Linked DNA regions of Homo sapiens: all the other regions are linked to region 4. Evidence: fine-mapped expression QTL. A gene starts in region 4. Each other region holds a variant in brackets. All regions are shown on one strand. Distances are from middle to middle.

Region 1 (5,109 bases), 150 kb before region 4:
AGTGGGTACAGGACTGTGTGTGCCCTCTGTGCCTGTTCCTGTAGGTGGAGGTGGTCCTCAGGGTGGAGGTAGATCCACTGTCCTCCATGCCTATGTTTCATGCCAGCGGCAGTGTCAGCACAGGGCTGGGGCATTAGCCAGGGCAGGGCTAGCGGGCTCGTGCCTGCCAATGCTCCAACGACAATGGCAGTGCGGTTGGGGGAAGGATGGGTGCACTTATGCAGGCAGCAGTGGCATGGCAGGGTGCACCTGTACACGCACGCTGGTAAGAAAGGAAAGGAAAGGTCCACCCATGCCAGCAAAGTGATGCAGAGGGATGGCCATAAGTGAGTAGCCATCACACAGGGCAAAGCACACAGGGCAGGCTGCCAAGTGGGGAGGGTGCAGGTGGGCTGGTGAGAGTCTGCCAGCCTCTCTGCTAGAGCACTCTGCTGGTCAGGCCAGGTCCACCAGCCAGAAGCTATAATGTGGGTCCCCAGGAGGTACCTGGGGGCTGCACTGCAAGCAGGCGTGGTCAAGCCGGGTCCCCAGGAGAGACCAGCAGAATGAAGGGTGCTCAGGTCAGACCGCCCTGTGTCACAGGTAAGACCACCCAGCAGAGTTCAGGTTGCACAGTACTACCAGGGCTCAAGTCTCCTATGGGATCAAGTCGAACCTAGGGGAATGGGCATCACTGGCCATTCTCCACTAAGGATGCTCCCACATCAAACCAACTGGGCTCCATGCTGGCTGTAGTTCTGCCCCAACCACTTATCTAAGCAGCTCTCCCTGCCAACGCAAGTGTCCATGGTGATCACAGGGTCTCCTCCTGCCAGGATTCCAGAGTCCTGTGGTAAAAGTGGGTTGTTCCTTGCCTGTTCAAGTCACCCCTTCCCCAGGAGTTGCTGGACACCAGGAATGAGTCTTGGTGAACAGTAGCCCTGTGCAAGGTTCCCAGTTTCCTTCCCCTTCAGCTCAGCATCTGTGTCTTTTCTCCATCTGTTCTCAATGGCTTCCCTCTGAAGTTCTGCTAGGAGTGCACCAGTCTTACCAATGTCTCGGTCACTTGGTTGCAGATGTTCCTCCTGCCTGCATCTAGTTGGCCATCTTGGAGCAGGATAAAACAGGGCTGACTTGTTAAAAATCATTACATAAATGTATAAGTTAGTATTTTTTTTACTCTAAAGAAACTGAGGATTTATATCCTATTTATCTGGCTCATTGGCAGTTTATCTGGTGATACAGTCTGTTGATTCTGGAAAGAGATGACTGAATGCTCCCCATACTAAAGAACGCCATTGAAAATGGCAAAAACAAAGCCAAAATTTGGTACCAGGATAAAAACAGAAATGGGTTAATCATTAAGATATTGGTTATTTGTATTATTTTATTTCCTGTCATACAAAAACAACATACTGCTTGCAGTTTTATTATAATCTAATATATATAATCTAAATATGACCTGCAGGTACTACTAGAATTATTAAGTAAAAATAGAATTATTGCAGATATTCTGTTAGGTCAAATTTTATTTTATTACGTCAGAGTTAGAAAGATTCTATGGGACAAGGAACAGTAGTTCACACCTGTAATCCCAGGAATTTGGGAGGCTGAGGCGGGAGGATCACTTGAGCCCAGGAGTTCAAGACCAGCCTGGGAAACATAGTGGGACTCCATTTCTACAAAAAATAAGAAATAAAAAAATTATTCGAGTGTGGCGGCACACACCTGTAGTCCCAGCTACTCAGGAGGCTGAAGTGGGAGGATCACTAGAGCATGGGAGGTCAAGGCTGCAGTGAGATATGATTGTGCCACTGCACTCCAGCCTGGGTGACAGTGAGACCCAGTCTCTAAGAAATGAAATCAAATTTAATAAATAAAATAAAATAAAAAGATTCTAACAGAACTATTAGAAAATAGTAGTTTTATATCAGGACCATTATATTAGAATCTTAGAGATGCAAATCTAATAATTAGAGAGACTATATATTGGTAATGCTAAAATAAGTTAACTTGGTGATCAAGATGCCAGCTCTGATCTTGACCCAGGTGCTTTTGGGGCTCCTGGGCTCCCAAAGAATACCAATATTCTTAAATGTGAATTATCCTAGATTCTTAGACAACAAGTCTAAGACAGACTTTATTATTTAAAATATTTGTATATTGTTTTATTACCACACCTCTTTCTTTCCCAGAGTATCTCTTCTATATCCAGCAAATTTTCAACGGCTTCCTTGCAAGGTATTTGTTCCCTATTTTGAAGCTTTCCCAGTTAAGTGAAACCTAACTTCTCAGTAATATATGCAGTTTCAATACAGGGCATCTGGAAGCTCATCAGCAAGATGTGCTTCTGCCAGAGATGAATGAAGAGGGGGGAGAATGGAACCAAGAGGCTGGAGAGTATGATTGGGGGAAAAATTATAAAGGGGCCAGGGGAAGATATAATGGTTGACCATAGATAGAGGCTTTTGGAAAGAGTGAAGATAGCTGTGAACTTGAGAAGAAATTTAGGAAAAGAAAAGAGATGTGTAAAAAGCAGATTTTCTGAAATTTGCCATATGATTTGCTATTTGAACTCACTCTTCTTCACTTTCTAACCTTAATGTGAGTTTGATTTTCAGGTTGTAGTCTTTTCTAATGCTTACCTGTCAAGGTGAAATAAATAGTGGACCCTCTGTATCCGTGGATTCCACATCCATGGATTCAACCAACAGTGGATCAAAAATATTTGGAAAACAAATTGTGTTT[G/C]TACTGAATGTCTTTCCTGTCATTATTTCCTAAACAATACAGTGTATCAACTATTTATATTGTATTAGGTATTATAAGTAATCTAGAGATTAAAGTACACAGGAGTATGTGCATAGGTTATATGCAAATACCACAACATTTAATATCAGCGACTTGAGCATCTGATGATTTTGGTATCCACCGGGGTTCGTAGAACCAATCTCCAGAGATAACCAGAGACAACTGTACTTAACTATAAAGGTAAAAAATTTTCAGTCATCTACTATCTGAAATCATCTCTACTTAAAAGTTGTACATGGAAATATGTGGAGAAAGAGGAGGGCTTAGGACCAAGCCCTGGGAAAGTGCCATCTTGAAGTCAGGTAGTGAAGAGAAAATAAATGAAAGAAAGCAATAAAAGGAGAAGAGAAGCAACCATATGGTATCCTGGAAGTCAAGAAATGGCAGTATCTGGTGGAAAGTGTGGTCATGCTGCTGAGAGGTAAAAAGAAGGAAGAAAACTGACCCTTGGGTTTGGCAACATGGCAATTAACAGTGACAAGAACCATTTGGGAGGCCTGATGGGAATGAAAGTCAAATATAAGTGGTTGAAGAGAGATTTGGAGGTGAAAAAGTGACAACCACCTGCAAAGAAAAATCCCATGAAAAGGTTTCTGTGAAAGGGAGCAAAGACAATGTGGCAGCTGGAAGGAGGCCTATGGGAAGCAGAGGAACTCTTTCTTAGCTGTAGTGGGGGAAAAGCAGAAGATGGGTGCAGATGCAGGGAGAATTGTATAACACTGGTAGGAAGAGCAGATTCTCATGGAATGAGGTCATCACTGAAATTGAGGGCAGGGAGTGGGTTAGATCACTGATTCTTAAAACATAGCTGTGCATTGAAGTCATCCAGCAGGTTTTAAATACTGTTTATGCTCAAATCTCACTCCCAAGAGACTCTGATTTAATTGGTATGGGGTGAATCCTACCATTCACGAGTTTCAAAAGCTCCCCACTTTCCACCTCCCCTCCATTCTCGGCCCCAGGATTCTGATATGCACCAAATTTTGAGAAATGCCAGTTAATAATTTTTGAGGATACAGAAGATACTAGGCACCAACTAGTTGCATAGATCCAGACTGCTACGTAGGAAAAATAAAATAAAAGTCATTTCTTGCTTTCAAGGCACTGTAAATCTGTAGGCTATTCAAAAATCTAAAATCATTCCAGAAAATATGAAAGTAATTTAGGAGCATTAGCAATTTAAAGTATATTAAAGAAAGCAGGGTACAAACCATATTCAATGATGCAGAATCAAGGGGAATAAGAGATCAATTTTGGAGATGGTGGCTCAGGGAATGTTCACTAAAGGAGAGTATTGAGCCATATTTTGAAGAAGTAAAGTGCAAAAATTGACAGCTATCTGAAGCACATTTCAGATAGAGGAAGCAACAAAAGCTTTGTAAACAAAAGCAGGTGATCAGGGAAACTATGGAGAAAACACATTGCTGAGCAACTGAAGGATAGGAGTGGGAGAGAGAATTTTCACTCTATACCACTTTTTTTAGCCTTTTAAATGTTGAAACATTGACAAGTTTAGCCTTTTCAAGAATCAATCAATTAATAAATAATGGCTTTTTAAATGGGAAAAGAATCATCTAGATTGAGACCATTAAAAAATGAAAAAATGAGAGTAAAGAGATACAGATGAGCCCATTATAAAAGTATTGAAAGTACTAGCAGTGCCCACAGGAATATAATCTATTTTCTCTACCATTCACCTGAAAAGACAGAATAACATTTTATCTAAATAAGACCTAACATCACCGTAGTGAAATGATCCTTAGCAGGCACAAAGTAAAAAACCAATGTGGGCCAGGCACAGTGGCTAACACCTGTAATCCCGACACTTTGGGATGCTGAGGCAGGTGGATTACTTGAGGTCAGGAGTTCGAGACCAGCCTGACCAACATGGTAAGAGCCCCATCTCTACTAAAAATACAATATTAGCCGAGCATGATGGTGCATGCCTGTATTCCCAGCTCCTTGGGAGGCTGAGGCAGGAGAATAGCTTGAACCTGAGAGGTAGAGGTTGCAGTGAGCCGAGATCGCGCCACTGCACTCCAGCCTGGACAAGAAGATCGAAACTCTGTCTCAAAACAAACAAACAAACAACAACAACAATGAAAAACAATGTGGAACTCTATCCTTGTGTGTCTAATTCTCCCACTGACAGAAATACTACAGCCAGACCAAATGTGTTTCTTGTTGCTGTTTATTAGGAGAAATTTTTGCTTTTGTTTTCAAAGTACTTTGTAGCCCTTAAGCCATTAATTACTTTAAAGAGATATTCATATTCTTTCATTTGGCCTCTTTTTCTAAAGAAAGGATAAGGAAAAAAGGTTA
Region 2 (5,109 bases), 140 kb before region 4:
TCCTCTACCCCCGCATTCCACTACAAAACAGAGTTGAGAAAGTCTAAGGGTGTAGAAAAGCCTTTATTTTAAAACATTTTATTTCAGTAGTTTTTGGGGAACAGGTGGTTTTTGGTTACATGAATAAGTTCCTTAATGGCAGTTTCTGAGATTTTAGTGTACCCGTCGCCCGAGCAGTGCCCACCAATGTATAGTATTTTATCCCTCACCCCCTCCAACCCTTCCCCAAGAGTCCCCAATGTCCATTATATTATTCTTACACCTTTGCATCCTCATAGCTTAGCTCCCATTTATAAGTGAGAACATATGATGCTTGGTTTTTTATTACTGAGTTACTTCACATGGTATAATTGCCTCCAGCTCCATCCAGGTTGCTGCGAATGCCATTATTTTGTTCCTTTTTATGGCTGAGTAGTATTTATAATATATATACATATACGATATTTTCCTTATCCACTTGTTGGTTGATGGTCATTTAGGAGGGTTTCATATTTCTGCAATTGTGAATTGTGCTGCTATAAACATGAATGTACATGTTTCTTTTTCACATATGACTCTTTTTCCTTTGGGTAGATACCCAGAAGTGGGATGGCTCAATCAAATGGCCATTCAAATTTTAGTTCTTTAGGGAATCTCCATACTGTTTTCCATAGTGATTGTACTAGTTAACATTCCCACCAGTAGCGTAAAAGAACTCCGTTTTCACAACATCCACACCAACAGCTGTTATTTTTTGATTTTTTAATTATGGCCATTCTTGCAGGAGTGAGGTGGTATCTCATTGTGGTTGCAATTTGCATTTCCCTGATAATTAGTGATGTTGAGCATTTTTTCATATGTTTGTTGACTGTTTCTATATCTTCTTTTGAGAATTGCCTATTCATGTCTTTTGATTATTTGGTTTTTTTCTTGGTGATTTGTTTGAGTTCCTTGTAGATCCTGGATATTAGTCCTTTTGTCAGATGCATAGTTTACAAATATTTTTTCCCACTATGTGGGTTGTCTGTTTACTCTGCTGACTATTTCTTTTGCTATGCAAAAGCTTTTTAGTTTAATTAGGTCCCATTTATATATTTTTGTTTATGTTGCATTTGCTTTTGGGTACTTAGCCATGAATTCTTTACCTAAGACAATGTCTAGAAGAGTTTTCTAATGTTATCTTCTAGAAATTTTATGGTTTCAGGTCTTAGATTTAACTATTTGATCCATCATAAGTTGATCTTTTTTATAAGGTGAGAGATGAGGACCCAGTTTCATTTTTCTACATGTGGCTTGCCAGTTATCTCAGGATTATTTATTGAAAGAAAAGCCTTTGGACTCTTCTCTGAGCCATTTCCATCCTATTGAAAGGACTGGGGAGTCACATACATCTGTTTTGGGATTTTAATAAAAGGTGTGATGGTCACACTTTTTATACGGTTCCTGCCCTGAGGCTGAATCTGTGGAGGGGTGTGAAGTATATGTTGTATAACTTTACACTCTATTTTGTGGCGCCTCTCTTTTAGGACAAATGTGGCACTTAGATTCCCTTTAAGAAAGCTGTATGGAATTTCAAACATAAGGAATTTAGCCCATGAGTTTTTCTCAGTTATGATTCTTTTGTAACATTGGGCACAAGAAATGTACATAACAACCAAGAGTTTTGGTAATACCCAATTTAGTGACAGAATCCATGTCAACATTTCATCTTTGGTGAACAGTCAAGTATCACAGATCAAAAACAGGTTTGAAGTTCATTATGCAAAGCTAGCAATACACATGCAGAAATGTGAACACCATCTTGTTAGATGTTATAACTAAAGAGAGTTTTCTAGTTTAGTGTAAAGTTGTTGTGCCCACTGTGAAATCACACTTTACTTTTCTAGGTCTTTTTCTTTGGCTGCCTTTTAATTTTCTTTCTTTTATTTTTAATTCAAAATTTTTATTTATTTAT[T/C]TTTTTTATTTTATTATACTTTTAAGTTCTAGAGTACAAGTGCACAATGCGTAGGTTTGTTACATATGTATACATGTGCCATGTTGGTGTGCTGCATCCATTAACTCGTCATTTACATTAGGTATTTCTCTTAATGCTATCCCTCCCGCCTCCCCCAGTGTGTGATGTTCCCTGCCCTGTGTCCAATTGTTCTCACTGTTCAATTCCCACCTATGAGTGAGAACATGCAGTGTTTGATTTTCTGTCCTTTCGATAGTTTGCTGAGAATGATGGTTTCCAGCTTCATCCATGTCCCCAAAAAGGACATGAGCTCATCCTTTTTTATGGCTGCATAGTATTCCATGGTGTATATGTGCCACATTTTCTTAATCCAGTCTATCATTGATGGGCATTTGGGTTGGTTCCAACTCTTTGCTATTGTGAATAGTGCTGCAATGAACATATGTGTGCATGTGTCTTTATAGTAGCATGATTTATAATCCTTTGGGTATATACCCAGTAATGGGATGGCTGGGTCAAATGGTATTTCTAGTTCTAGATCCTTGAGTAATTGCCACACTGTCTTCCACAATGATTGAACTAGTTTACAGTCCCACCAACAGTGTAAAAGTGTTCCTATTTCTCCACATCCTCTCCAGCATCTGCTGTTTCCTGACTTTTTAATGATTGCTTTCTCTTATTGCCAACATACTTAGTAGGAAATTCCACTTGGATTCCCCTAATGTCAATGTACAGTCAATATTTCATAACTTTCCTGACTTACCTCTTTCTCTACCCCTCTTAATTTGCATCTATCCTTTTACCTCTCCTATTCTATAGATGATCTTTTACTTTATATCCCAGACCACCAACCTCAAAAACCTGGCTCTTTTCTCTTAAGTGCTTAGTATCCACCATCCCCCCTACATCTTCCTAAACAGCATATTTAATAACAAAATATTAGTGCTTTTTCTTTCAAGATGTTTTACAACCTTCTCTTGGTTTCAGTGTTATGTAAGTTTTAGGCTGTATTAGTCTGTTTTCATGCTGCTAATAAAGACACACCTGAGACTGGGCAATTTACAAAAGAAAGAGGTTTAATTGGACTTACATTTCCACGTGGCTGGGGAAGCCTCACAATCATGGCAGAAGGCAAGGAGGTACAAGTCCCATCTTACATGGATGGCAGCAGGCAAAGAGAGAATGAGTTTGTGCAGGAAAACTCCTGTTTTTAAAACCATCAGATCTCGGCCAGATGTGGTGGCTCACACCTGTAATCCCAGCATTTTGGGAGGCTGAGGCAGGCGGATCACCTGAGGTCAGGAGTTTGAGACCAGCCTGGCCAACATGATGAAACCCCATCTTTACTAAAAATACAAAAAAAGAAAAAAAAAAAAGCTGGGTGTGGTGGTGCACGCCTGTAGTCCCAGCTACTCTGGGAAGCTGAGGCTTGAACTTGGGAGGCAGAGGTTGCAGTAAGCTGAGATCGTGCCACTGCATTCCAGGCTGGGTGACAGAGGGAGACTCTTTCTCAAAAAAAGCAAAACATAACAAAACAATGAAACCATCAGATCTCGTGAGTCTTATTCACTGTCATGAGAACATCACATGAAAGAGTTGCCCCCATGATTCAATTACTTCCCACTTGGTACCTCCCACAACACATGGGAATTCAAGATGAGATTTGGGTGGGGACACAGCAAAACTGTATCATAGGCTTTATACCTAACTGATATCAACTTTATCAGCCTTCTAACAAAATTTTTCTCTTTTCTGATTTGCCCTGTAACCCATATTAGATTAGTATCCTAAAAATGAGGAACCCTGTATTCTTTCTTTCTCAGAAATATTAATTGGTTCCTCAGTCTCTCAGGGTAAAGTCTGCTATCTTTCTCCAAGTATTTAGGGTATTGACTCATTATAATAGTTAGGATTGGGTTCAGCTGCAAGTGAAAGATGACCCAAAATAAAAGGGGCTCAAACAAAATAGATGCCCATGTTCAGAGAGATCCAGGGTAGGTTTGAGACTCCATAGTATCTAAGGCCTTTGCTCCATTTATCTTGTTATTCCCTCATGTGTGGCCTATATTCCTAAGCTCATTTCATGGTTCAAGATGGCTCTCCAATTCTGTCTTCAATCCAGTCAGCAAAAATAAAAAATTGGTTTGCCTCATTTAAGGAAACTTCCTGGATGTTGCACCCACCACTGAAGTTTACACCTTTTGGTCAAAACTTATTTTCAAGACCAAATTTAGCTTTATTCTGATGAACATTAGCTATGGTTGGAATGTTTTTGTCCCCTTCAAAAATTATGCTATAACTTAGTTCACAATGCAAAAGTGTTGGCAGGTGTGGCCATTGGGAGGAGATTGAGTCATGGGACCACCCTCATGATTGAGATTAGGTGCCCTCATAAAAGGGCTTCATGGAGAGGGTTCATCCCTTTTCAACTTTCTTTGCCTTCCACAATGTAAGGACACAGTGTTCTCCACTCTAGAAGATACAACATCAAGGCTCCATCTTCGAAGGAGAGAGCAGCCCTCAACCAGACAGCCAAACCTGCCACTGCTTTGATCTTGGACTTCCCAGCCCCTAAAACTGTAAGAAATAAATTTCTGTTCTTTATAAACTATGCAGTCTCAGGTATTTCATCACAGTAGCACGAAACAGACTAAAACACTATGTGTCCTACCTTCTAAGTGCTACTTCTTACACCAATTCACCATTCCAATCAAACACTCTCCTTAGTCCATTTAAACGTAAACTCTTCAAAACGCTCCAGCTTGCAACTGTCTCTGTCCTTTAAACTAGAGGTACTGTTGATTTGGCAGCCAATCAGATACTTATTTTGTAACAGCCTTATTTATTTATTTATTTATTTAGATGCAGAGTCTCGCTCTGTCACTCAGGCTGGGGTGCAGTTGCATGATCTCCATTCACTGCAACCTTCGCCTCCTGGCTTCCAGCAATTCTCATGCCTCAGTCTCCCAAGTAGCTGGGACTTACAGGCATGCACCACCATGCTCAGTTAATTTTTGTATTTTTAATAGAGACAGGGTTTCGCCATGTTGGCCAGGCTGGTCTCCAACCCCTTGCCTCAAGCAATCCACCCACCTCGGCCTCCCAAAGTGCTGGGATTACAGGCGGAAACCACCACACCCAGCCTGTAACAGCCTTCTTAATGTGGTTTTAATGAT
Region 3 (5,109 bases), 97 kb before region 4:
TGTAAAGAAAATATATAAGGCAATTTTTTGTTTGTTTGTTTGTTTGTTTGAGACGTAGTCTCTGTCACCCAGGCTGGAGTGCAGTGGTGCAATCTCTGCTCACTGCAACCTCCGCCTCCCAGGTTCAAGCGATTTTCCTGCCTCAGCCTCCCGAGTAGCTGGGATTACAGGCATGTGCCACCACACCCAGCTAATTTTTTTGTATTTTTAGTAGAGACAGGGTTTCACCATGTTGGCCAGGATGGTCTCTATCTCTCGATTGCATGATCCATCCGCCTCAGCCTCCCAAAGTGCTGGGATTACAGGCTTGAGCCACCACGCCCGGCTGGCAATTATGTTTTAAATGGAGGAAGATAAAGGGAAGTAAAGGGAGGTAAGGATTCTGTACTTAATTCAGACTAACAAAATGATGACACCAGAGGGTTATAAATTATGTATATATAACACATATAAATTATGTATATATAATGTATATATAATACCTAGAGCAACCGCTAAAAAGTTATACAAAGATATATACTCAGAACACACTGTTGATAAGTCAAAATGGAATTCTAAAAAATGTTCAAGAAACTAACTCACAGGATGTCAGGAAAAAGAAAACAGGAATGAAAGAACAGAAAATAAAAAATAAAATGGCAGGCTTAAACCCTAACTTATCAGTAATTACATTACATGTAAGTGACCTGTCTATGCCAATTAAAAGTCTTTTGGCATAATGCATTTTAAAAGCATGTTTTCACTAGGTGAAGTGGCTCATGCCTATATATTCCTAGCACTTTGGGAGGCAAAGGTGGGAGGATCACTTGAGCCCATGGGTTCAAGATCAACCTAGCCAACAGTGAGACCCCCATCTCTATAAAAAATTAAAAAATTAGCTGGATGTGGTAGCACGTGTCTGTTATCCCAGCTACTTGGGAGGCTGAGGTGGGAGAATCACTTGAGCCTGGGGGGTTGAGGCTGCAGTGACCTGTGATTGTGCCACTGCACTCCAGCTGGGGTAACAGAGCGAGACCTTGTTTCAAAAACAAAACATGATTTTGCTGTATGTTGTCTACAAGAAAATTATTTGATAACACTATATCCAGAATAAAAATAAGATTGAAAAAATATATCATGTAAATATTAATCAAAAGAAAACAGGAGTTGCTATATTAATATTAGAGCAAGTAGGTTTTAGAGTAAAAAAAATTACCAGAGAAGTACATTATGAACACATACATGATAAAAGGGTCAGTCCTTTAAGACATAAATGTATATGCACCGAAAGACAGCTGCAAAATATGTAAAGCAAAAACTAATAGAACTGGAGGAAGAAATAGACAAAGTCACAATTATAGTTGGAGACTCTGACACCTCTCTCTCAATAATTGATAGAACAATTAGACAGAAAATCAACAAGAATATAGAAGAACTAAACACCACCATCACTCAACAAGATCTAATCAACATTTATACAACATACCGCTCAACAACAGCAGACTACAAATTCTTTTCAAGTGCCCACAGAACACACAGGAAGAGAGACCATATCCTGATTCATAAGATAAACCTCCACTAATTTAAAATATTGAAATCATACAAGTATGTTCACTAACCACAGTGGAATCAAAGTGGAAATCAGTTACACAAAGGTAATAGGAAAACGTCCAGTCCTTGGAAACTGAACAACAAATTTCTAAGTATCCATGGGTCAAACAGGAAATATCAAAACAAATTTGAAAAAACATATTGATCTAACTTGGCCAGGCACAGTGGCTCACGCCTGTGATCCCAGCACTTTGGGAGGCCGAGGTGGGTGGATCGCAAGGTCAGGAATTTGAGACCATCTTGGCTAACACGATGAAACCCCATCTCTACTAAAAATACAAAAAAGTAGCCGGGCGTGGTGGCGGGCGCCTGTGGTCCCAGCTACTCGGGAGGCTGAGGCAGGAGAATGGCATGAACCTGGGAGGCGGAGCTCGCAGTGAACTAACTAAAAATGAAAATACAACAATTAAAATTTGAGAAGACCAGCTAAAGGAATGCTGAGAGGAAACTTGTAACATGAAATGCATATGTTAGAAAAGAAGAACAGCCTCAAATCAGTTATCTATGCTTCTACCTTACAAATCTAGAAAAAGAATAGCAAAATAAACTCAAAGCAAGCAAAAGAAATTATAAGAGTAGAAATCAGTACAATTGAAAAGAGTAACAATAGTGAATATCAATGAAACAGAGCTGGTTCTCTGAAAAAAATCAATAAAATTGAAAGACTGACCAAAAAAAGAAGACAGAAATGACCATTGTCAGAAATGGTGTCAGAGACAAGGATATCACTGCAGACATCAAACGGATAATAAGAGAATACTATGAACAATTCCATATACATAAGTTTACAAGTTAGATGAGATGGGCCAGTTAGTTGAAAAATACAAATCATCACAACTCAGTCTGACATAGATAACGTGAATAGCCCTGTAGAAATTGCTGTGGTTTGGGTATATTGAAATTTTTTAATTTTTATTTTTATTTTTTATTTTATATATATATTTTTATTATCCTTTAAGTTCTAGGGTACATGTGCACAACGTGCAGGTTTGTTACATATGTATACATGTGCCATGTTGGTGTGCTGCATCCGTTAACTCGTCATTTACATAAGGTATTTCTCCTAATGCTATCCCTCGCCACTCCCCCCACCCCACAACAGGCCCCAGTGTGTGATGTTCCCCTTCCTGCGTCCAAGGGTTCTCATTGTTCAATTCCCACCTATGAGTAAGAACATGCGGTGTTTGGTTTTTTGTCCTTGCGATAGTTTGCTGAGAATGATGGTTTCCAGCCTCATCCATGTCCCTAGAAAGGACATGAACTCATCATTTTTATGGCTGCATAGTATTCCATGGTGTATATGTGCCACATTTTCTTAATGCAGTCTATCATTGTTGGACATTTGGGTTGGTTCAGTATATTGAAATTTGATCCTCAATGTGGCAGTGTTGGGAGGTGTAGCCTAGTGGGAAGTGTTTGTGTTATGGGGGCAGATCCCTCATGAATGTCTTGCTGCTGTTCTCACAGTAGTAAGTTCTTGCTCTCTTGAGGCTAGATTAGTTCTTGAAGGAATTGATTATTTCCCGAATGAGTGGGTTGTTA[T/C]AAAGCCAGGACACCCCTCAGGTTTTCCCCTCTTTGCACCTGTCTGCTTCCCCTTTGATTTTCTCCACCATGTTATGCAGCACAAAAGCCCTCACCAGAAGCCAAGGCTATGCCCACAAACTTTTCAGCCTATAGAACCATAAGCTAGTCTCAGGTATTTTTCTATAGCAACACAAAATGGACTAAGACAGAACTGTTCAGTGAATTAAAGTTGTAATTATGAAATTCCCAAAAAAGAAATATCCAGGCTCAGATGCTCTTATTGAAGAAGTCTACCAAACTTTTTAAGGAAGAATTAAAACTAATTCTACATAATCTCTTCCAGAAAATAGAAGAGGAAGAGACATTTTCCAGTTAATGTTAAGAAATGTTTTACCTTGCTTATATCAAAACCAAAGACATTACAGAAAAAAAAAAAAAAAAAAACTACAGACCAGTATACTTTGTGGGATAAACCCAAATGTCCTTAACAAAATATCAGAATTTTGCAGTATATAAAAAGAATTATATACCCCAAACAATAGAAGTTTATTTCAAGGTAGCAAAGTCAATTCACTATTTGAAGATCAATAAGTGTAATCCACCACATTAATTAAAGAAAAAAAATCCCACGATTATATTAATCAGTGGAATAAAAGCATTTGATACATTTCACCACCCATTCATGATAAAAACTGTCAGAAAAATAGCAATAGAAGGGACCTGCCTCAACTTGATAAAGAGCAACTACAGAACTCCTGTAAGCTAACATTAAATGGTGAAAGACTGAATGCTTTTCCCCTATGATCAAGAATAAAGCAAGAATATCTCTTTACCACTCATATTCAACAAAGTGCAGGAAGTAGTAATCACTGCGTTAAAGAGAGAAAAAGGAAATAAAAGGCATACAGACTGGAAAAGAAGAGCTAAAACTGTTGTTATGTGCAAATGACATGATTATCTATGTAGAAATCCAAGGAATCTACAGAAAAAACTGTGACTACAAAGCAAATCCCGTAAGATTGCAGGACACAATATAAATCTACAAAAAATTAATTGCATTTCTATTTACTAGCAATGAATATTTAGACACTAAAATTAATAATACATTAGCATTTACAATCATACATACAAAAAAATACTTAGGTGTAAGTTTAATAAAACTTTTATCACATTTATATACTGAAAGCTATACAATATTGATTAAAGAAATCAGAAAATAGCTAAATAAATGGACTGAAATATCATGTTCATGGATGGGAAGATTCAACATAGTAAAGATGTCAAGTCGGCTGGGCACGGTGACTCACACCTGTAATCCCAGCACTTTGGGAGGCCGAGGTGGGCAGATCACCTGAGATCGGGAGCTTTAGACCAGCCTGACCAACATGGAGAAACCCCATCTCTACTAAAAGTACAACATTAGCGAGGCGTGGTGGCGCATGCCTGTAATCCCAGCTACTCAGGAGGCTGAGGTAGGAGAATCACTTGAACCTGGGAGGTGGAGGTTGCAATGAGCCGAGATCGCGCCGTTGCGCTCCAGCCAGGACAACAAGAGCAAAACTCTGTCTTAAAAAAAAAAAAAAGTCAAGTCATCACAGATTGATATACAGATTTAACACAATTCCTGTCAAAATCCTAGCAGGATTTGTTTTGTAGATAGAAACAAGTTTTATTCTAAAATTCATATGAGGGGAAGAAAGAACCTGAATATTTAAAAACATTTATTTCTGTTAAAAGAATGTAGTTGGAGTAATCAGTGTTCCTGATTTCAGGATTTACTGTATAGATAAACAGTAAACAAAACTGCGTGGTAATGGCAGAGAGATACACACATAGATCAATAGAACGAGATAGGAAACCCAGAAATAGACTGATACCAATATAGCCAACTGTTTTTTGACAAAGATGCAAAAGCAGTTCGATGGAGGAAAGATAGCCTTTTCAACAGTTGGTTTTGAGGCAATTGGACACCCATAGGCCAAAAAATTAACCCTG
Region 4 (5,109 bases):
ATAACCTCTTAAAAATAATTGAAAAATTAAGTCATTAAAACCAGCTACCTTTTATCTATCCATTACATTAAATCATTTTGTTTTTAAGGAGGTCTTTGGAAACTAAATTAATCAGAAGGTTTGGTAGAGATTCTATCTCGCCAGTGGTTAAAGGTTCAAAGAAAAAGTCATTATAATGTTCGAGTTATGTTCAGTATTCTGGCAGAGGCAACAAGTCATTGTCAAGAGTTCTCAAATTGTTATCTATAAAAAATGTATCAGTGAGGTGCTGCAGGAGCAAGTACTGGCACAAGTTGATTATTAAATATTCAATTCGATGATGTTAAATTGTTGGCAGCTTGAAATTGTCTATAGTGGGAGTATTTATACCAGGGAATTAGGCAAATTCTTGAAATCAGGGCTTTCTCCACACCCCAACTCTTCCCAGCTGTTTTTCCAGCACACTGTTGAGTATGCTTAAATAAGCCATACATCTGAGGGTTCTTTTTGGGAGAACAGAAATGTCCTAAAACTGATTTATGGTGATGGTTGTATCACTCTGTAAAGTTAGTCAAAAGTATTGAATTGTACACTTGAAACGGGTATATTTTATGATATGTAAAATAACCTCAATAAAGTTGCTAATCGAAATGCCCCTAAACCAACAAACAAAATATCAACATTTATTAGTAATTTTAAGATTCAAGTACACACCCAACAGACTTAAAATGAAAAACAAGACCACATTTACCTAATGCATTTGGTAGATACATATTCTATGCAGTGATCATCAACCTAGGGTCTCACTTTGGAATTACTTGGAGAGTTTGACAAGAAAACACCCATCCCCAGAGATACTGAAATCATTTGTCAAGTCTGTGGTTTGGGTGTCAAGATGTTCCAGAGCACAGCCAAGGTCAAGAACCAGGACTGTAGAGCAGTTTTCCCAGATAACTGCAGGTTGCCCATTGCTATAGAAATCATCCTCATGTTTATTAATTGTTCACGCCTTCTGAAATAGGGAAATCTGGCCATGAATGTACCCTTTTTTTTTTGCAGGGAAGTGGTGTGACTCAGTTTTGTATTCAATGTCTATTCTTTGCACATGGAGGAAAGACACAGTCCTATTCCACCCGTGGGTTTCACCTGTAGTTGCTTCTTGCTGTTGACATCATGGTGGGGCACAGAGACAGCATCTAATTCATCTTTGTCATCTAAGTGTGTTCCCACAGTACTCAACCATAGACTCTGGGTTCTAGGATTGTTTGTTTAACTAAAGGACCAGAATTGAATATATTCCTCTATCTCCTCCTTTGGGGTTTTCTATTACAGTGGGCTGGGAATACAGTTAACAGAACATGTAAAGCATTGTAACTTAATAGTTCAATAAGACACTGAGGGCCACAGTTCAGCTTTAGCTTTTGGACTTGGTGACACCTGTGCTGGATGCTCACAGAAGGGCCTTTTACCTCTTCTGTTTGGGGATTCAATCTAGAGGGATAGAGAGATTCTAGAGCTCTGGCTTCCTAATAAGGGGAGTTTTCTTTAATGAAAATTCCAGGTGTTTTATCTGATTTGCCAAATGAAAGTAGAGTTCAATTCCGAGACCTCAGTTTTATAATCTAAAGACAGGAATTATTAATAAACTTTTACAGTAATACAACATAAAAAGATACAATCTCTGCAGCCTTAACACAGAGAGATTTCAACTCTATTTTGGTTTTTCTTTGGTTTCGGACATAGCCTGTGGTAGGTTGGATGCCCAGCTTTGCTATGTAATTGATGTGTGACTAGCAAGCAAGTTATTCAAACCTGTTTGGTACTTGTTTTCATCCTTTGTAAGATGAAGATGACAACAGCTCCTATGTCATTGGATTGCTATGAAGAGTTAGAGCTATTTGTCCAGGCAGAAGGTAAAGGTTTTGCCTCTCCTCATGCACAGGTGTCAAAGCCACCTTCATTGGGATATTCCCAGTGCATTAGGCAGTTTCTCTGGGAAATCCCCAATTCCTCTCTTGTGTAATACTTGTTTCTTATTAAATACCCGGATGAGTTGTCATCTGGGTCCCTTCTTAAAGACAGAGCTCCAATGACTCCACCTACCTATGCTTACCTGTTTGAAGCAGAAATTTTATCCTCTTCCTGGATTGTTGGTACTGAAAGGCTCAAAGTTGGCTCTCTGGACATACATACGATATCAAATCTCACAAATGCAGTATCAGGAGAAAGAAATATACAAGCGAGACTGTTGCAGGAACTTCCTCATTCTCTGTCTTTTGAAAAAGTCCCTCTCCCTTACAGTAGGGTAAGCTTTCTGTTTATCTTACCAGAAACACAGTCCTTTTACTGTCCCTGGGTCAGTGCTAGAAACTCTTGAACAGCGCATTTATTCATAAACCAGAGCAACATCAAGGAAGCCAGGCAACATCACCTCTATATCCCAATTCTGTCCCTCTTCTCAAAGAATGTCCAACATTTGATTTTTTTCCCTATTTTCTCAACCAACTTGTTTTCACATCTAGAAAAATAATGCCTGCTTTTCCAATGGAATTAGCCCCAGACAAGAAGATACTTAACAGATACAAATGAATAAAGTGGAAAAAAATAAATGGTTGAGGTGGCAGAGGGCAACAAGGCACTGAAGATAGTCATTAATCAAAGCATGCAGGTGGGAGTGCGGAGTCAATGTCCACCCACTAGGTACTTTGAAAGGAGATCTGCTGCCTTACCCCAAGTCCTGGAGCAGCTCAGCCTCTCCATCGGATCTGCTCCACAGATCTGAGGGATCCTGGGTGCTCATCTTCCCTTCTAGAAGTTCTGCTCTGCCCATTCGCGCCCTTCACAGAGGTAGAGAGAGAGACACAACTGGGCTGCTCCTGACACCTTCTCGCTCTGTGAGACAGCAGCCTGCTATGGCTCTGAGTCTCCAAGGCAAGGAAGTGAAACTTGGTTACTTACTCCTCCCACCAACACCACCACCCTGGCCTGGAGGCACTGGCAGGAGTGTTCTGTCAGTCAGGAAGTATGCAAACTTAGGTAGCTACCTCTGAGGACACCCACACTACATCACGCAACAGGCGGTTGCTATCAAAGGAAATGAAGAGGCAACCACCCCACCTGGGATTGGACAACAGTGCAAACTGCTTGTGTGAGGCCAAACCCTAGCTTCTCCCTAATGCTATCAGCCTCTGGTTTGTAGTGGAGGATGCGTGCACTCTTTTACCCCATCTTCTTTCTGTCTTACACACCAACACAGGGAACACTGAGGAAGCTTCTCTATCAGGAACACCTTTAGAGTGGATAGAAAAAGCAGAAGCAAACCACAAATTCGACCCTGAAGTTTGATGTTTTAGCACTTTTGCAATATTTCTGCTTGTTTACCCAGACCTTCTAATATATCCTCAATGCTCCGAATAGGGATGATTCAGAGACAATTATTGTTTCCTCCACAGAAAAAGAATTAGGAGAGGAGAAGGTAGGAAAAAGTTACAAGGGGCCATTCTGGTGCCCACCTAATGGGGCATATTAGAACTCCTGGAGTCTTTTTTTTTTTTTTTTTTTGAGACAGTCTCGCTCTGTCACTCAGTCTGGAGTGTAATGGCATGACCTGAGATCACTGCAACCTCCACCTCCCAGGGTTCAAGTGATTCTTCTGCCTCAGCCTCCCAAGTAGCTGGTATTACAGGCACCCGTCATCATGCTCTGCTAATTTTTGTGTTTTTATAGAGACAGGGTTTCACCCTCAGGTGATACACTCACCTCGGCCTCCCAAAGTGCTGGGCTTATAGGCATGAGCCACTGCACCTGGCCTGAACTCCTAGAGTCTTTGAGTGCCACTTCCTTCATGGGCTTACTCACACCTGCATGGCTTTGTGCCCAGATTCATATGTAGAGCAGGATTCTATCTGCCTGGAATGCTAAAGGTAAATTGCAGTGACTGAATCCTTGGGAAGTGGAACAAAGTGCAGTATCAAATGAGTCAAGGACATATGTTGCTTCCTGCCTTTTCTATGTACCTACAGGTCTCTCTCTCCCTCTCCCTTTCTCTCTCTCTCTTCCTATCTCTACTCCCTGACTCATTCAGCACTCACCACAGTGCTCTGTAACTTGTTCTCACAGTGTGGCCTGAGGACTAAACAGCACAGCAGAACTGTTCCTAAAGGACTAGATGATTGCAAAAGGCTGCTGTGCAATGGTTCTATCCTTCATCTTCCTCCCTATTACCACTGTTCACCCGGGATCGGTGAGACCCGGGTAACACTGGTTGCCAGTGGGAAGTTCCTGAGTGTCTGGAGGCAGTCTGCTGAAGACTAAGCTCTGATAATACATATATAACTGACTAAATGAGCACTTAAATTCTTTTGGCTACAGTTTGCTCACAGAGAAGGACAGGGCCCACTTGAACAGAGAGGCCAGTGCAGGCCAGGGAGATACTGAATATGCATACAGCAGTGACAGGGGAACAGCCTGGGCACTAGAGTTCCTGTTCCCTCTCTAGAGCCCTTTATTTGGTGTTTTAGTATCTATTTCATTCCCATTTTTAGCAAATTCTGGTTGTTCTTTTTCTTAACTTTTTTGGAAGTACAAGTAGCAGAATTTTCTAAGATCGTCCTGCTTTTCTGGCTGAATCTTCCTGCCTTTTGCCCTTCCTCATGTTGCTGTCCTGTCTGTTGCCCTCTCCTTTGATGTCATTGTCCCACTTTGTCATTTACTCAATTTTTCACAGTATCCCTACCACCCCGCCCACTCCACTAACTACACACTTAGTTTTGCAGTGGTAACAGCTGCAGGAGGCTTGCTAGATAGTTTCAACAAAATGCTGGAGCCCATCCCTCCCGGGACATCTATTGCTGTGTAACTGAAAGGGGATTTAGAATCTTGTTCTGGGCCGGGCGTGGTGGCTCATGCCTATAACCCCAGCACTTTGGGAGGCCGAGGCGGGTGGATCACCAGGTCAGGAGATCGAGACCATCCTGGCTAATACAGTGAAACCCTGTCTCTACTAAAAATTCAAAAAATTAGCCGGGCATGGTGGTGGACGCCTGTAATCCCAGCCACTCAGGAAGCTGAGACAGGAGAATGGCGTGAACCCGGAAGGCAGAGCTTGCAGTGAGCTGAGATCATGCCACT
Region 5 (5,109 bases), 85 kb before region 4:
AGAGGTCAGGACATAAAGGAAATTTAATACAGCATGCAATCTAGACAACTTTAATACAGTGAACATAAAGGAAACTATAACATCATATTGGCTGTTATAGCAGCATGAATAAATAAGAAGCATATAAAGAAAAAATAATAAAAATCAGTGATTTTACAGTATTAAAATCACATTGGTCTAAAAATAACAATTACCTTATTTCTTCCAAATAAGATTTTTATTAACAAAAAATTGAGATAACTTTATAAAAACACAGTATATTTAAAAGTGTGGTTACTTTTTGTGACATGAAATCATGGTTTTAGGCAATTTGAGATAACGTAAATAAATTACAAGTTGATTTTTGTAATTTATAATACAAATAAGATTTTTATTAACAAAAAATTGAGATACTTTACAAAAGCATAGTATATTTAAAAATGTGGTTACTTTTTGTGACATGAAATCATGGTTTTAGGCAATGTGAGAGAATGTAAATAAATTAAAAGTTGAGTATTTCTTATCCAAAATGCTTGGGACCAGCAGTGTTTTGGATTTTGGGATTTTGGATTTTTTCAGATTTTGTAATATTTGCATATATTTTATGAGATGTCTTGAGGATGGTACCCAAGTCTAAAAATGAAATTTATGTTTTATATATACCCTATTCACACAGCCTGAAGGTAATTTTATACAATATTTTTAGTCACTTTGTACATGAAACAAAGTTTGTATACATTGAACTATCAGAAAGCAAAGGTATCACTATCTCAGCCACCCATGTGGACAACCTGTGGTTGTTTGGCATCATTCCTGACTCTGAATTTATATGCTACTGATAAGCAATAATTTTCTTACTCTAATTCACATATAAGTATTTAACAGTGAAAAAATAATGTATTCAGGTTTAAATAACCACCAGCATATTAGCATCACCAGAATACCCGTGTCAGCTGTTAAACAATAGCAACGACAAACAACTACAGGCTTTTAGTTTCCACCTATGATGCTGTGTTTTGATTAAAAGGTGACCCATCACATGAGGTCAGCTTTGGAATTTTTCACTTGTGCCATCTTGTCGATGCTCAGAAAGTCTTAGATTTTAGAGCATTTCGGATTTCAGAGTTTCGGATTAGGGATGCTCAACCTGTATTACCAATATTAACTTTTCAATGATTTTTAATTGTTTTTGTTTGCTTGGTTTATAGCAGCATATTGGAATGTCCAATTTTAATTAAAATAATGATGCATCTCTTTTACAGTGGAACTGGGCAAACTATTAAAATGCAAACAGAAAACTTGGGTGTTGTTTATTATGTCAACAAGGACTTCAAAAATGAATATAAAGGAATGTTATTACAAAAGGTAGAAAAGAGTGTGGAGGAAGATTATGTGACTAATATTCGAAATAACTGCTGGAAAGAAAGACAACAAAGTAAGTTTGTCATGTGTTTAACATTTTAAAACTTATTCGCAGTCTTTGGAACTGATTAATGTAGATTTCCCTATTCAAGGAATGTTCTGGAATTCCCTGGCACATAATTGGAGCACAGTACTTAAATGAGATCATGTGTTTTATATACATGTGGCCTAACATCGGAATTGACACATAGTAAGGACTTAATAAATGGTACTTGTCTATTGTTATCAATAAATATTTGGTTGAATAAGTAATACCAAATTTTATTGTATTGATAATATCCATCATAAGACACATCATTCTTTTATGTACCACCAAGAAACAAAAAATATCCTGGCAGATAAACTATGTCATCAATTTTAAGATGCATACTGTTTTCAGAGTTAAGTTTGAAACTCTATTAATTTAGCTTTTGTATTTAGAATTTAATGTACAATGAGTTTTGTTGACATTTCTTTTTTCTTTACTTTGTACACAGAGAGACTCTTCAGAACACTTCATTTGCTTAGGCTTTTCCAGCCTCAGTTTTCTTAATTTAAGGAACAGTTCCATCTATAAAGATTGATATAAGAATCTGCTGAGATGTTGCATGTGAATTGAGTGTTGTGGTTCTTGTTTTTGTGACCATTGTTGTGAATAATAATGTAGACCATATAGTGTAGTGTTAGGAGAACTGACTTTGGAATTAAACTGAGTAAAGTTGAATCCTAGCTCTGAAATTTTTAGCTGACGAATTGTAACCTCTATGAGTTTCATGTGTAAAATGGGTGATGATGAGTGGGAGGAGGAAATAATAGCTATCATTTATATAATGCCTGTTTCAGTCACTGTCCCAAGCACATTGTAAGTATTAACTCATTTAATCTTCACAACAACCCTGTGAGATTATACTTATTTTACACATGAAGAAACTGAAGCAAAGAGAGATTACTAACTTGCCCAAGGTCATAGAGGTCGTTTGTGATTGAAAACCAGACAATTTGTCTCTAGAATCCAGGCCCTGTGCTCCAACGTCTTCTCAGAAATAACCAACTTTATGGGGTTTGTTGTGAAAATTAAATCAGGCAATAAAGTACTTCACACATAGTGAATGCTCAGAAAATGTCAGCAATTATCATCATCTCCCCCTTGCTAGGGAAAAGTTGATAAAATGTAACTTCTAAGAGAGTCCTTAACCTCTCTGGTCTTGGTTTTCTCCTCTATTTAGTGGCAGTTAGAGATGTGACCTCTTTGACTTCTAACTCAATGAGTTTGTGAAATCAGTCTGTCCTCAGTGTGGAGAAGCTTACATTAGACTAGTGATTTTTATGTTTTCAGCTGGGAGTGAGTTGCCACCCTTCCCCCACCCCACCCATCCCTAGAGATGTTTGGTAACGTCTGGAGATACTTTTGTGTGTCATCATGGGATGGGAATGGAAAGGGATTGCTACTAGCATCTAGCGGGTTAAGGCCAGGGATGCTGCTAAACATCCTACAATGCACAGACCCCCC[A/CA]CAACAAAAAAATTATCCAGCCCAAGCAGTACTTGAAATAATGGAAAGAATATTAGGCTAGGCATTGGAGAGTTGGACTGGAATCTAGACTCTGCCATTCGTTAGCAGTGTGAACTTCGGTTTATCTAAGTCTCAAATTTCTTCTTTGGGAAGAGTCATCTGTAAATAGATATAAGCGCATTATGTGTAAATAAAAGGCATAGGATAATATTGATTGAGTTGTTAATCCTAGTCCAGTTGATTTAGTAAAGATTATTTCTGGAGATCTTTACAAATGGAATACTGTCTTAACTGTGAGTATATCTTGAATGTGATCTTGACTAATCCATATAAACCAGATGTCTTCTACTTTGGCCATTGTGTTCCAGAAAGTAACTGATTTCTTTTTCTGTTACATCTTCTTTAAGTGCTCCTAGTCTTTACAGGTATTAATAAACAGTGAAATGACTGAGAGTAACAGGAAAAAACAAGAAATACTCCTTGAAGAATTTTGATTTGTAGTCTGTATATCATTAGTAGCTGTGCTGTCCCACACACTGAAGGAAGCCTCAGAAGTACTTATTTGCTGAATAGCAATATTACGATCGTATAACAAGCATTTTTTTTATCTGTGTTCCTTCAGTAATATTATTATATGTATTTTTTAATTTAAGTAAACTCAGAACAAGATTTTAAATTTTTTATTAAATACTTAAGTCTTGGGATAATCTGAAATCTTAACAGAAGGCCACAGTGAAACAACCACTGGCAGTATTGAAAAGCATATAATATTTTTAGGAAAAGAGTCCAAGATGATGCTTCAGAGGAATAGTTTTTAAACCACTGGGGAACAGGAGTAGAGAGAAAGGATTCCAACGTGAGTTGACAGGATTCTATCCTTATTTATTTTCTGTGTTTGTTTTACCTGCTATACTTCAAATAAAGTTTTCATTAAAATTTTTTTCCTACTAAAATGGCTTTTAGGAATTGTACTTTGATTTTTTTTAAGTCAGTTAATCAAAATATATCAAAGGGCTCCTGTAAAGCATCACTTGAGCTTAAGCAACTAGGTGACAAAAATTTTATTCAATTAGCAAAATATTTTTCTTTATTAACAGAAACAGATATGCAGTATGCAGCAAAAGTATACCGTGATGATCGACTCCGAAGGAAGGCAGATGCCTTGAGCATGGACAACTGTAAAGAATTAGAGCGGCTTACCAGTCTTTATAAAGGAGGATGAACTGGAATTTTTATTTATACCTTTTAGCGTACTCTTTATTTTTTCTGTAAGTAAGTTTGGTTTCATCATGAGGGATGAAGGAAAAGATTTGATACTGAAAACTAAACTGAATAGTTGGTTCCTGAAATCTTGGACTGTTTATGACCTACTGGCTCCTTTAAATAGTAACTGAAAACTAAAATGGAATATTTTAGTTAACGCTTCTACAAGTATTTTCATTTTAAAAGCTTACATGATTCCTAACTAAAGTGTCATGAGAAAGGATTATCACACCTGTAGCAATTTCCAGTTTTAGTGATTCTCCATTTTTTCCCTTGTCATGTAAATATTTATGGAATGATCATTTTGTGTACATACAGGTTACTGCTTTTTTATTTAAATTCTTTTAGTGTTTAGCTCCATGAGACACTTCAGTTTAAATTGATGGAATAAATGTTATATGACACATTTACATTTTCCTTATCAAGGTGTCAAATATGTGGACTTTAAACAATGAAACTTTTTCAAAAAGAAAAAACAAAAACTTTAACTTTGTGTAAAATCTTATAGTATTATCAGCTTAGAGGGAATTGATATTTTTAATATTGCCGTTATATTCCAAAATATATATTGAGATAAATGAACTGGTGTAGAATATCAGTTTGCTATTTAGTTTTATGAATTACTATACATATACATGCATAGAAATGAAATGCTATACTGATAAATTTTAAAGAAAATATGAGGAAATGGCTATAAATATTAAACTAAAAGGGTCTTCAACAGTAAAGTGCAGTTATGTCATTTAAAATTCCAATACTTTAAAGGCCACCAAATTTTGATGTATATGTCCTTGAAGGGCTGCTAAAATTTATGAAGAGGACTCACATTTTCCCCCATAGAAATTTGCAGTTTCTTGGTGATCATTTAAGCAGGATCCAAAGAAGTTCCTTTACAAATAAGTAATAAGAAAAATGAGTACTAAAATACAGCTTTGTGCCTTTTAACCCTATGCCAA

What was found. PIP is the estimated chance that this variant, and not a neighbour inherited with it, causes the effect. A credible set is the group of variants that fine-mapping cannot tell apart.
Region 1: its variant is the best candidate, but not a certain one, in a credible set for the expression of DAPP1 in whole blood (TOPMed, PIP 0.73).
Region 2: its variant is the best candidate, but not a certain one, in a credible set for the expression of DAPP1 in whole blood (TOPMed, PIP 0.62).
Region 3: its variant is the best candidate, but not a certain one, in a credible set for the expression of DAPP1 in whole blood (TOPMed, PIP 0.58).
Region 5: its variant is the best candidate, but not a certain one, in a credible set for the expression of DAPP1 in blood mononuclear cells (TOPMed, PIP 0.82).

Annotation. Positions count from the first base shown.
Region 1 is chr4:99,966,957-99,972,065 of GRCh38, reverse strand. All of the region lies in intron 1 of H2AZ1-DT (H2AZ1 divergent transcript), which reads right to left. Among named protein-coding and RNA genes, the nearest start is that of H2AZ1-DT, 19 kb to the right of the region's middle. The variant G/C (reference allele first, on the strand shown) is at 2,728.
Region 2 is chr4:99,955,524-99,960,632 of GRCh38, reverse strand. All of the region lies in intron 1 of H2AZ1-DT (H2AZ1 divergent transcript), which reads right to left. Among named protein-coding and RNA genes, the nearest start is that of H2AZ1-DT, 7.6 kb to the right of the region's middle. The variant T/C (reference allele first, on the strand shown) is at 1,934.
Region 3 is chr4:99,912,071-99,917,179 of GRCh38, reverse strand. The region is part of intron 3 of DNAJB14 (DnaJ heat shock protein family (Hsp40) member B14); the gene reads left to right. Among named protein-coding and RNA genes, the nearest start is that of LAMTOR3, 20 kb to the right of the region's middle. The variant T/C (reference allele first, on the strand shown) is at 3,133.
Region 4 is chr4:99,814,614-99,819,722 of GRCh38, reverse strand. DAPP1 (dual adaptor of phosphotyrosine and 3-phosphoinositides 1) reads right to left here and starts at 2,896. Exons shown (of 9, transcript NM_014395.3): 1 at 2,709-2,896. The coding sequence starts at 2,809.
Region 5 is chr4:99,900,031-99,905,139 of GRCh38, reverse strand. DNAJB14 (DnaJ heat shock protein family (Hsp40) member B14) reads left to right here. Exons shown (of 8, transcript NM_001031723.4): 7 at 1,242-1,414; 8 at 3,988-5,109. The coding sequence ends at 4,112. Among named protein-coding and RNA genes, the nearest start is that of LAMTOR3, 8.2 kb to the right of the region's middle. The variant A/CA (reference allele first, on the strand shown) is at 2,891.